Linked DNA regions of Homo sapiens: regions 2 and 3 are each reported to be linked to region 1. The links are microRNA targets in miRTarBase. Many come from high-throughput screens and were not tested one by one. Region 1 holds a microRNA gene; each other region holds the end of a gene's coding sequence.

Region 1 (4,147 bases):
TCAGCGAAGGGTAGGCGCTTAATGAATGCTTCTCCGCAAAGTGGATCACAATCACGAAGAAACCAAAGCTTACACTTCCGTTCCCCATATCTCCCACAGATCCAAAAGACCACGGGGCCCAGGACCCGGTCTCCATAGCCCAGCCATACCCGGGGGTTTTCAGGAAAGCCTCACTCGCGTCCTGCCGGGCGATCCGGGGTGGTTGAGTTGGGAGGGGGGCTACCCCAGTTTGTAAGCCCACCACGTCCAAATATCCCATCCAGGAGGCGCAGAGAGCAACCTCAGCATGCATAACAAAGCAGCCCGCGGCCGCGTTCACAGCAGGCTTGGCGGGGGTTCGGGAATTTCCACAGGGTCTCGGCCTCCCCCACTGTGGGCTCGCGCCTGGCGCCCCTCACCGGGCTTCCAAGCGCTCTTGTCGGTGTCGCTAGAAAACTCGCAGAGATTGGAGCTGAGAAAAGGCGGGCAAAGTTCCTTTTGATAAGTTATGAATGGGGAAAAAGTGTTTGTAGAACTCATTGTTAAAACCACGGAGCCCGAGACTCGGCCGGCGCCGGGCCAATCGGAACCCGGAGGCTATTTTGAAATCTCTCCCGTCTCAGCCAACAGGCATGCAGGAGGCGAATCCCCGCGCCAGCGCCGGCCAATGAGCGCAGCGCTATGCTAAGGAGTCGGGGGCCCGGCCCCTCCGACTGTCAGCGGGTTAAAGATGGAGCCGGCAGGCGAGGGGCCGCCACGAGGTGCAGGGTCGTCTGGACGGGGACCCGGGGGCAGACGATGGCCGGGATCCTCTTCCGTCTAACCCTCCGCGTCCTGACCGGGCCCTGGGCGGAAGGGATGTCTGCGTGAGTCAGCTGTGTCTGAGGAGGGGATCCTGGGCTGGGCTGGGCGGCCCTACTCGGCGGGTCAGGCGGAGGGGCGCGGCCGGGATCCCGGGGGCCCTCTTTGGAGCAGGGAACTCTAGAAGGGCGGGGAGCCCCCATCCTCTGCTCCACTCTGGGCCTCCAGGCAGAAGAATATGTTAGAAAAGAATCCAGAGTGTATCTAGTGCAGGGCAAGGGGCCAGGGATGGAGTCGTCAGCTAGAAGGGGCGCGTCGTCCCGGGGTGGGGCCGCCCTTTTTCTCCTGGAGCCGCGGGCCGAGTCAGGGCGCAGGGTCGTCGGGCTGTACCCACCCCGCTCCGGGCGCTAGCCGGCTTTGGACTGCGGCTGAGTGCGGGTTCGTCTTTGTGTGTGCGCCCCCTCCCCTGCGTGGCCCGTCAGCTCCTGCTCCGGGATTGGAACAACCCCCTAGTCTGGGGTTTCTCCTCCACCTCAATCCGGAGCGTTCTGGGAAAGGCCTGGGTGTCCTGGGTTCTGAAGACCCCAGGGACGCACCCCGCTGCGGTCTCCTTCCCTGCCCGGATGGACTGGACGGGGGCTCTGCCCCACCCACCCATCCATGGTTGAGCTTCCCGCCCTGCGTGTATTGGGGGTGGTGGGGTCCCCCCTGCTGGCCGCAGGTGCTCTGACGAGGTTGCACTACTGTGCTCTGAGAAGCAGTGCAATGATATTGTCAAAGCATCTGGGACCAGCCTTGGGGATCTCCCTCCCTATAACCCTCACCTCCCACTCCCCAGGCAGGGCCCCTTGGGCTTGCAGGCCCTCCCCTCCCCCCTACCCAATTCGCTCCCTTCTCCATGGAAACTTGAGATTCTAGACAGGCCTGGGCCTCTGGGGTCAGAGGGCACCCTTTCCCCCCGGGCAGAGGCCCCGCCCCAGCCAGCCTGCATTCCAGGTCTCAGATCCCTGCAGACCACCCTGGGGGAGGCACTGGCAGGCCTGCCCGACACTCTTTCCCTGTTGCACTACTATAGGCCGCTGGGAAGCAGTGCAATGATGAAAGGGCATCGGTCAGGTCCAGCCTGCTACCCTGGGAGGGGGAAAGGGAGCTTGCTGCCTCACTCCACTTTCCAGTTGAGAAGGTTGAGGTGCCCAGAGGGTAAGTGTTTCCACTGATTAGGCACAGATGTGAAGCTGGACTGGACCCTCCATCAGAGGATCAGGTGGGTGCAGAGCTGGAGAATCATCCCTAAACTCTCCATCCTGTCATGGCTGGACAGGTGCAGGAGCAGACCTCCCCAGCTTCTGAAAAGCTCTTGTTTGAAGGTCTTTCCACATTGGGTCCCTGGGGTAAGACTGGAACTCCAGGCCTGGTCAGGGTCTTAGGGGAAATACACGCCCAGTCTTTTGCATGGAAGATCATTCTAGGCCTGGCTTGGGCCCAGTCCTTGCTGGAAGCTTGAACAGGGCCAGGCTCTGGAGAGAATGTTCTTCTGGGTGGCAGTTGGGTAAGGGGGTAAGGCAGGCCTTTCAGGAGGCAGCCTTCACCCCAGGACGTCAGCTGGAGTGGTACTATGGACTGACCAGTTGACTGATCAGTTGAGTGGACTCAGCTGGAGTGGTACTATGTGAGATGGATGGGTGGACTTGGGATACAAAGCCTGCAAATGATGTCTACCAACCATGCCAGTTTGTTCTCTTACAGAGAGGTGTGCCCTGAACCTGCAGGAGGGACTGAGGTGTCTAACATTCCAACCGTCCCAGCTGGAATACAGGGTTGGAGCTGAACTTCCAAGGAGCCTGACCCCAGGCATGCTTGGATGACCACCTCTACCATCAAGACCTGACACGGTGCAAAAGGTTTCTACGTGCCCAGTCACAGTCATTCAAATCTTCTTTAGAGGAGGACTAGGTTTCCAGATGGGCTTTTGGGAGTTCCCCTCATCCCTAGCTGGGCGCATTGGGAAACTGCTTTACCCCTACCCTGGGGAGAGAAGCCCTGGCACCCGTGGGAGGAACAGGGGCAATGACACATGCTCCTTGGCTTCCTAGTCCTGATCCCTTGGGGTTCCTTGATCCTAGGGTCATCTGACTTAGATCCATCCTCCCTTCCTCTAGGCACCAGGGGCCATGGCTGGAGGTGGCCACCCCTCAGTCCTGTACAGATTCTGTACCCACTGGCTGGAGACCCCCATGCAGCTGTCTCCTGCTCTTGCTGCGGGGAGACTGAACTCAGGGCTCTGCTCACTGGCTCCCTCCCAATGGAAGCCTTCTCTGGGCTTCACAGCATTGAATATTCCTCCAGAACAGCTTGTTAAATCAAATTTTTTTTTTTTTAGATGGAGTCTTGCTCTGTCGCCCAGGCTGGAGTGCAGTGGCACGATCTTGGCTCACTGCAAACTCCGCCTCCCGGGTTTAAGCGATTCTCCTGCCTCGGCCTCCCGAATAGCTGGGACTACAGGTGCTACCACACCCAGTAATTTTTGTATTTTTAGTAGAAACGGGGATTCACTATGTTGGCCAGGCTAGTCTCGAACTCCTGACCTCATGATCTGCCCTTCTGGGCCTCCCAAAGTGCTGGGATTACAGGCATGAGCCACCGCACCCGGCCTAAATCAAAATGTTCTCCCTGTGGCAGAAGTGTCCATTAGACTGGGAGCCCCTGAGGCAGAGACAACTGTCATTTAAAAAATCTCTGGCCAGGCGCAGTGGCTCATGCCTGTAATCCCAGCACTTTGGGAGGCCGAGGCAGGTGGATCACCTAAGTTCGGGAGTTTGAGACCAGCCTGACCAACATGGAGAAACCCCATCTCTACTAAATATACAAAATTAGGCTGGGCGCAGTGGCTCACGCCTGTAATCCCATCACTTTGGGAGGCTGAGACAGGTGGGTCCAAGGTCAGGAGTTCAAGACCAGCCTGGCCAAGATGGTGAAACCCCATCTCTACTAAAAACACACACACACACACACAAAAATTAGCCGGGTGTGGTGGTGGGCACCTGTAATCCCAGCTACTAGGGAGGCTGAGGCAGAGAACTGCTTGAACCCGGAAGGCAGAGGTTGCAGTGAGCCAAGATCGCGCCACTGCACTCCAACCTGGACAACAGGGCAAGACTCCCTCTTGAAAATATAAAAAATAAATATACAAAATTAGCCAGGTATGGTGGCGCATGCCTGTAATCCCAGCTACTCAGGAGGCTGAGGCAGGAGAATCACTTGAATCCAGGAGGGAGAGGTTGCGGTGAGCTGAGATTGCGCCATTGCACTCCAGCCTAGGCAACAAGAGGGAAACTCCGTCTCAAAAAAAAAAAAAAAAATCTCTTGG
Region 2 (4,000 bases), not on the chromosome of region 1:
CCGTCTCAAACAAAAAAAAAAAAAAAGAAAAAACCAGCCAGGCGTGGTGACACAGGCCTGTAGTCCCAGCTACTCAGGAGACCGAGGAGGAAGGAATGCTTGGGCCCAGGAGGGGAGGTTGCAGTGAGCCAAGATCATGCCACTGCACTCCAGCCTGGGCAACAGAGCGAGACCCTGTCTCAAAAAAAAAAAAAAAAAAAAGAGAAAGGGAGGCTCCTACTAATACTGTGCCTGTGCCTGTGAGCTGTGGCCTGAAATCAAGAAAGCAGAACCACACTGGGGCCTGGGACTGTCCCAGACCTGACCTGTGTGAATTTGGGAAGCAACTTAGCATTACTAGGCCTTAGTTTCCTCTTCTGTAAGCCACATTAGTGGGGTAGCCACGGGGAGTCAGGCAGATGACAGCTGTCACAGAGTTACTGCCCAGGGCTCAGCTAGAGGGACACAGCCTGCCAGGGATGGGCCTAGGGAAGGAGTTAGGGTTGTTGACTGCTGGTGGCTTGGTTTGCAGGGGCCTGGATCCCATCCAGACCCTGGTGATTCTGGGGTTGTCTCAGGCTAGGCTGGGCCACAGTGGAAGTTCACTGACTGCCCTGGCCTGGCCAGGCTGTGACTCTGGTTTTGGCAAGGAGACGGCCAAGAAACTGGACTCCATGGGCTTCACGGTGCTGGCCACCGTATTGGAGTTGAACAGCCCCGGTGCCATCGAGCTGCGTACCTGCTGCTCCCCTCGCCTAAGGCTGCTGCAGATGGACCTGACCAAACCAGGAGACATTAGCCGCGTGCTAGAGTTCACCAAGGCCCACACCACCAGCACCGGTCAGTGGCAAGTGTCCACCAGGCAAGGGCGTGGCAGGGGAGTGGGAAGGACACGGGGACTGGAAGTTTGCTGCTGGGCTGACCTAAGGCTTCCCTCCTCTGCTCTGTGACCCCAGGCCTGTGGGGCCTCGTCAACAACGCAGGCCACAATGAAGTAGTTGCTGATGCGGAGCTGTCTCCAGTGGCCACTTTCCGTAGCTGCATGGAGGTGAATTTCTTTGGCGCGCTCGAGCTGACCAAGGGCCTCCTGCCCCTGCTGCGCAGCTCAAGGGGCCGCATCGTGACTGTGGGGAGCCCAGCGGGTGAGTGCCCCCCCCCACTGGAGCAAAAAGGAGCCCCCTGGGGTGGGGGAGGGCTTAGGGAGCCCCTTGCCAAAGCTGAGCTGCCCCACTCCCAATCCATCCGCAGGGGACATGCCATATCCGTGCTTGGGGGCCTATGGAACCTCCAAAGCGGCCGTGGCGCTACTCATGGACACATTCAGCTGTGAACTCCTTCCCTGGGGGGTCAAGGTCAGCATCATCCAGCCTGGCTGCTTCAAGACAGGTGGGAATCAGGGCTGGGGGTGGGGTGGGGGTGGGGAATGGGGCTGGGAATGGTCTTATGGGGGCAGGTCAGGTTTGATGAATGGTCATGGTTTTGGTTGGGGGTGTAGTTTTGGCTGCAGACCTGGCGCGGGTTAAACAGTCCTAATTGGCTTTGGCTCCCCTAGCTGATCCCACTCTGACCTTGCCACTCCTTCCCCAGAGTCAGTGAGAAACGTGGGTCAGTGGGAAAAGCGCAAGCAATTGCTGCTGGCCAACCTGCCTCAAGAGCTGCTGCAGGCCTACGGCAAGGACTACATCGAGCACTTGCATGGGCAGTTCCTGCACTCGCTACGCCTGGCCATGTCCGACCTCACCCCAGTTGTAGATGCCATCACAGATGCGCTGCTGGCAGCTCGGCCCCGCCGCCGCTATTACCCCGGCCAGGGCCTGGGGCTCATGTACTTCATCCACTACTACCTGCCTGAAGGCCTGCGGCGCCGCTTCCTGCAGGCCTTCTTCATCAGTCACTGTCTGCCTCGAGCACTGCAGCCTGGCCAGCCTGGCACTACCCCACCACAGGACGCAGCCCAGGACCCAAACCTGAGCCCCGGCCCTTCCCCAGCAGTGGCTCGGTGAGCCATGTGCACCTATGGCCCAGCCACTGCAGCACAGGAGGCTCCGTGAGCCCTTGGTTCCTCCCCGAAAACCCCCAGCATTACGATCCCCCAAGTGTCCTGGACCCTGGCCTAAAGAATCCCACCCCCACTTCATGCCCACTGCCGATGCCCAATCCAGGCCCGGTGAGGCCAAGGTTTCCCAGTGAGCCTCTGCGCCTCTCCACTGTTTCATGAGCCCAAACACCCTCCTGGCACAACGCTCTACCCTGCAGCTTGGAGAACTCCGCTGGATGGGGAGTCTCATGCAAGACTTCACTGCAGCCTTTCACAGGACTCTGCAGATAGTGCCTCTGCAAACTAAGGAGTGACTAGGTGGGTTGGGGACCCCCTCAGGATTGTTTCTCGGCACCAGTGCCTCAGTGCTGCAATTGAGGGCTAAATCCCAAGTGTCTCTTGACTGGCTCAAGAATTAGGGCCCCAACTACACACCCCCAAGCCACAGGGAAGCATGTACTGTACTTCCCAATTGCCACATTTTAAATAAAGACAAATTTTTATTTCTTCTAAAATGCGGCAGGTGCTGTTTGGAGGGGGTCACTGACTGGCTGGCTGAGTGACACAGTGTGGCCGTGTGACAGGGTGGCAACTCCTGGGGCTCAGCGTGGAGGCTGGGATTCCCCTGGTAGACTCTGGTTCACACCTCCCCCTCCTCCACTGACCTGGGGCAAATCATTTCAGACCATGGGTTTCCTCATAGTGAAATGGGGGTAATGACACTGATCCCAATTGCTTGAAGCAACTGGGGAGGCCAGGGGGGCCTCCAGGGCCAACATCTAGCTCCCCAGGCCTGTATGCATCTGAGCCTCCAGCAGAAGAAGGGGCTATCTCCCTGGGACTCCCCAACCCTGAAGAATCTCGGCTGCTGACTGAGGGAGGGAGGTGGAGGCTTAGGCAGGGTTGCTTAGCAAGGTGGGGTCACGAGGGAAGTTAGGGGTCATGGAGAGGTACCAGGGCCTAAACGAGACAGCAGACAGTTGGCCTTAGAGAGGGCAGTTTTATTGTCTCAGAGGGGCAGGGCTGAGGGAGGGAGCTGAGGAGCAACATCCCCCCAGGCCCCAAGGACACACACACTCTGTCCTTCCCATGGGCCATGGCTCTGGGAGCGACCCACAGAAGGGAGAGGAGGCTCAAACTGCCCCCAGGCCCCAGGGTTCTCAGGTCAGGGAGTTAGGGAGGAACATGAAAGTGACATGCTTCTTAGATACATCAGCGGCTGTAACCACAGGGCTGAGGGGGCCTCCTTGCTCTGGAGGGGGTCTTCGTCCATCCTTGGTGGGGGGGGGTGCCCAGCCCCTTTTCAGGCCTAAGAACAGTCTCTAAGAGGGTCAGGAGAACTGGGCAGCCGCTAGGACAGCGTACTACACCCCGGACAGGCAGGTGAGCCACAGGCTTGTCACAGACCACATACACACACACGCACACACACGCGCACACACACACACACACACACAAAGAGTGCAATTGAGAGCCTTGGGCCAGGACGCTAGAAGATAGGGATGTAGTTGTCGATTTTGGCGCGGTGGCGCTGGGCGATACATTCAGCGATCCACACGATGTTGCGACACTCCTGCTCCTTGAGCTTCACGAAGGCATAGAAGACACCAAAGTGGAACTGGTTCAGGAAGGCCAACTTGTTCAGCTTTACCTGTGGACACGGGCAGATGTGGTGTCCAGGTGGCCATGGCCACAGAGTCAGGTCTAAACCACCAGGTTGGCCTCCCTCTGACAAGCAGACCCTGCAGACTCACCTCGTGCTCAAAGAATCGGTCCTCCAGCGTCTTGTCTCCAGGGTTGCTACCTGCACCCTCGAAGAGCAGCTTGTACTCCTGGCCAGGGGGGTGGGGGGAAGCACAAGCATGAGGGTTCTGGGTGGGGGTGCTTGGTGACAACACATCCAACCGCTGTCCTGCCAGCCGGGGCACTCACCGGGTAGTAATCGGCCACGTTCTTGACCTGTTCATAGTCGTCAGCCCGAGC
Region 3 (4,000 bases), not on the chromosome of region 1:
TTTTAATGTTGATTTTCTTTCCTCAGCTTCCTTTCCTTACTCCCATCCTAAGAATGCCTTACTATTTATTCAGGAGCCAAATTGAGTTATGAAGAAATTAAATACATGCAACAGCATGTCTTCCTTTACAGTTAATATACATCCAGAATATGAAAAAAATAATAATATTTTCCTAAAGATCAGATTAATGACTTTTGGGTTTTAAAAAAATCACAGTATTTAACTTTTTGATATGTCCTTAAAACTCAAATGTAAAATAGCACCTACTTAAAATTTGCCTTTGGGTATCAATTTGAATGATAAACCTACAACTAAAATGATTTTTCAACATTATGGCTAATAATATTATTTCATTTTAATTATGCAGGAAATACCACACACATTTATTACAGTTTGATGGTGAAGGAGGTTGGCGCTTTGAACAATTGGATACTGCTATCCGTTTGACATTGAGTGAAGAAAAACAAAAGCTAGAATCTCAGCTAGCTGGAATTCCCAAAATGCAGCAGAGACTCAATGAACTATGTAAAATTTTGGGAGAAGACTCAGTGCTGAAAACAATTAAAAATGAAGATGAGACATCTTAATTTGTTTTGACATATTTTAAAAGTTAATTATTAGATAAAGGCTCAAAGACATTCTGTTATACTGCATGAAGTATGTTAAGCTAAGCACAGAGAAAAAAAGGCAGCAAGACATGTTTTATAAGATTTTAGCATTAAGGAAGTATATGATCTGACTTTTCAGAAGAAAATAAACAAATGCATTATGTAAGGTCAGTCATTATGACTTATACTAATTCCTAGTGAAGGCCTAATGCACTTGTAAAACAGGATTTTCTAGGTGAATTCATGATGAATACCAGATTTACTATGTATATGTGGTGTGTCTGAAGTTCTTAACAAACATGGGCAATATTCTGGAAATGAAACAAGTTAAACTGAGCAGCATTTGGGTTGATACCAAGTGCATAAGATTCAAACTTTGAGTGACATTTAGTCCATTTATGGTTGATATTAGGTTTAATAGCTAGAATTCAAATTGATTATTGCTAGTGGCCAACTAAACCTGTACAAAATAGCTGACAGTTTTATAAATAATTTCAATATAAAAATTGTTTTAATGGCATTTGTTGAAAGAAAAAAGCATGGCTAAAATGTATAAAATGCCATATTTTTAAATTTTGGACTTTAAGCATCTTAATGAGGGCATATAACAAATTAATTTTAGTACAAATCTTAAATATTTTTAATAAATCCTTTCATTTTAAAAAGAGAATTGCCAATACAGAAAAGGAGTATCCAAACAATGTCTCAACCTGATAATTTCCTTAGCAGAATTACCTATTGCAACTTCTGTTCAGAAATACACAGCTTGTTTTTTTGCCCAAGGATGAGTCTACATTTTAAGAACTGCAATGGTATAAAGGAACTTAAGGATTCTGAGAATCATAGTAATAACATACATTGGAATAGTACTTTATAATTTACAATCCCCATTTACATCATTTCACCTTAATGTTGATGACAATGTTTTGAAACAAATACTATTTTTCCTACTTTGCTTTTGAGAAAATTGACACTCAGACTTGCCCTAATCATGCACTTTACTTAAGGAAAGATCGAGAAATCAAATGAAGTTCTCCTGACTCTCTGGTTTAGTGCTCTTTTGTTATTATCCTTTAAATCAAACTGGGCTATAATAGCAATAAAAGTTAGACGAAGTGTAGAAAATAAAATAAATTTCATAATGTTAGTCTTATTGTTATTTGGTTATTGTTTACAAGAAATGAAAATTAAGTACAAAGTGCAAAGATCATTGTTCTGCGGCTTAAAATGAAATGAGAAAGTTAGTAAATCATTCAGCAACTATGCAGTCTTACTCAATATTAATGTACCTCTAAGGCATTAGCAATGAGAAGGGCAAATAATTATGGTTTTGGTAAAGTTAATATTTATTGAACATAATGAGAAATAATCTATATGGACTAGTCATATGAAATAGATTTTATTCTATTTGTGTGCACTGGAGCTGGAAAGCCAAGACTGAAACTTTATCTCTTGCTGCCTGTGATACCACATTGACATACCAGAAGAATATTGGAATGATCAGTTGTTAGTGGCCTAGGATTTTATTTGCCTGTTGAGACACAGCCATAATAGATGTTAAGTCTGTGATTCTTAGACTTTTCAGGTGATAGAGTACCTGGAAGTCATTCATAATGATCGTTATAGAACATCATAACATTTCTACATTTTCAATTCTGCCATGATAGCTAGTGTATTTTTAATTTTCAATAAATGTAACCAACTTACATGAAGGAATGCAATATAAAATTATAATCAGTACATTTGTCCAACGTTTTCATTAGTATTATCACCTACTTATTCATCAGTTACTAATATTTCCTGTTAGAAAAGTGAGGCAGGAATTAAAGATTTTTTTTTAAGAAGCATGGAACCAAAACTTAAACTTGCTAAAAATTATTCATTAATCTTTTCTACATAAGTGATTATCCAGTTTATACTGCTACAAGGGCAAAAGTCTGAGGCAAGTGTTTTAAGTTAACTTTTAAAGGTACAAGAAGAAAATGAAAAATCCTCATGTGAAAGATGTGTATAATTTTCATGCCTTAATTTTCATAATATAAAAATAAAACATAATTTTAAAACAACCTGATAATTTTGTTTTGAAACATTGAAAAGAATGCCAAAACAAATATTAGATTTGTAATTAGTCAGTATTTAATATATTTTACCCATGAGCTAAAGCAAAAAAGACTCATTATTTATGATGCACAGGATTCAAAGATGCCTAAAATTCTGTATTAAAAACTATGTACACTGTAATTTAAATGTTAAAGTTCTAATATGCACATGTTTTCCATGAGCTTTTTGTGCCTATTTGTTTTCTGAATTTATTTTTCAGGACCAACATCCTTAACTTGGAAGGGAAAACATCTCTGATTTGAACTTGTATTTATGTACCATTCAATTGTTTCCAAATGGTCCAATGGGTATACCATATTTTACTACTCTTATATTTTACGGAAAACATGAAAAAGACTGAGAAACTAGCCATTTTTGAATACAGCAAGGGATAGATGAGGAAAGGAAAAAAGAAAGAATATTTCAAGTTTCAAACTACTTTTACCATGTTATATCTATTTGCCCAAACGTTTGACATATTTTTGGTCAAACAAAAAGCTATAAGTTTATGGAGCTTGAGTTTAAAATGTGCATTCTTTAGGTTAACTCTTAAACTTGAAAAATAAGTTGGATTCTATGAAAACGTTGCATTATATTTCTACAGCATGTAATGTTATGCCAAGCATGAGTCTAAAACAGTTTGTGTTCTTGTAAGCAGGATAATGTGTAATAATCCCTCTGAAATAATCTCAAGAAGAATGATATACCTTAAAACTCAACTCAAATTTACATTTGTTTACAGTGGGAATGGTTTTCTCTTGATAGAAATTTGGTTTTTGTCTCAAGTTTTGGTCTGTCAGTAAAGGCATAAATGAATATCCTAGTTTTTATTTGAAACATTGGTTCCAAGTATAGTTTCATATTTGGCAATAGATTCATCTTATTCTAATATGTTTGGAATAGCTTTTTGATTCAATGAGTCTAGGAAAATCTGTTACACATTGAAACCCAAGTCCAGAGAATGTTACACACTTCTAATATATGCATAAAATGATGGTAAAGGTTATTAAATCATTGATTTAAAAAGATGACTTTGATATAATTACTTTATGGGCAAAATTGTCCTCATTTAGAAGTGAAAAGTACTTTCACATAGCCTAGGCTATTTACAGTTCTGATTATATACATTTAGATATGTTGAATATGTTTTGGGGTTGAATATGTTTTGCCACATGAGCGCCTTCAGGTGGATGTATAAAATATTTTTTTAAAAACCAATTTCTTCTTCATTGTTGATGCTTTTCCTGACTACCAAGTTCAGGGCTGGTTTACATTTCATATTGTGAAATTTT

What was found. Region 1 holds the annotated microRNA hsa-miR-130b-3p (CAGUGCAAUGAUGAAAGGGCAU, at 1,868-1,889, shown strand). A microRNA usually pairs through its seed, bases 2 to 8, with sites in the 3' UTR of a target mRNA and lowers its output. Matches are read on the target gene's strand: a 7mer-m8 pairs with bases 2 to 8, a 7mer-A1 pairs with bases 2 to 7 and ends in A, and an 8mer does both.
Region 2: miRTarBase lists ATP6V0D1 as a target of hsa-miR-130b-3p. Seed matches in the 3' UTR shown: 7mer-m8 at 3,478-3,484.
Region 3: the mRNA of ABCD2 is a reported target of hsa-miR-130b-3p. The part of its 3' UTR that is shown has no 7-base or 8-base seed match.

What each region holds. Positions count from the first base shown.
Region 1 is chr22:21,651,487-21,655,633 of GRCh38, forward strand. MIR130B (microRNA 130b) reads left to right here and starts at 1,818; the gene lies at 1,818-1,899. It overlaps MIR301B (microRNA 301b), which reads left to right and starts at 1,495; the gene lies at 1,495-1,572. It also overlaps the pseudogene LOC107985532. RefSeq lists enhancers at 280-950, 951-1,622, 1,159-1,208.
Region 2 is chr16:67,435,022-67,439,021 of GRCh38, forward strand. It overlaps ATP6V0D1 (ATPase H+ transporting V0 subunit d1), which reads right to left. Exons shown (of 8, transcript NM_004691.5): 6 at 3,950-4,000; 7 at 3,772-3,849; 8 at 2,998-3,668. The coding sequence ends at 3,507. HSD11B2 (hydroxysteroid 11-beta dehydrogenase 2) reads left to right here. Exons shown (of 5, transcript NM_000196.4): 2 at 607-819; 3 at 936-1,121; 4 at 1,228-1,365; 5 at 1,567-2,532. The coding sequence ends at 1,982. Among named protein-coding and RNA genes, the nearest start is that of HSD11B2, 5.9 kb to the left of the region's middle. RefSeq lists an enhancer at 465-966.
Region 3 is chr12:39,550,499-39,554,498 of GRCh38, reverse strand. ABCD2 (ATP binding cassette subfamily D member 2) reads left to right here. Exons shown (of 10, transcript NM_005164.4): 10 at 368-4,000. The coding sequence ends at 587. Among named protein-coding and RNA genes, the nearest start is that of ABCD2, 67 kb to the left of the region's middle.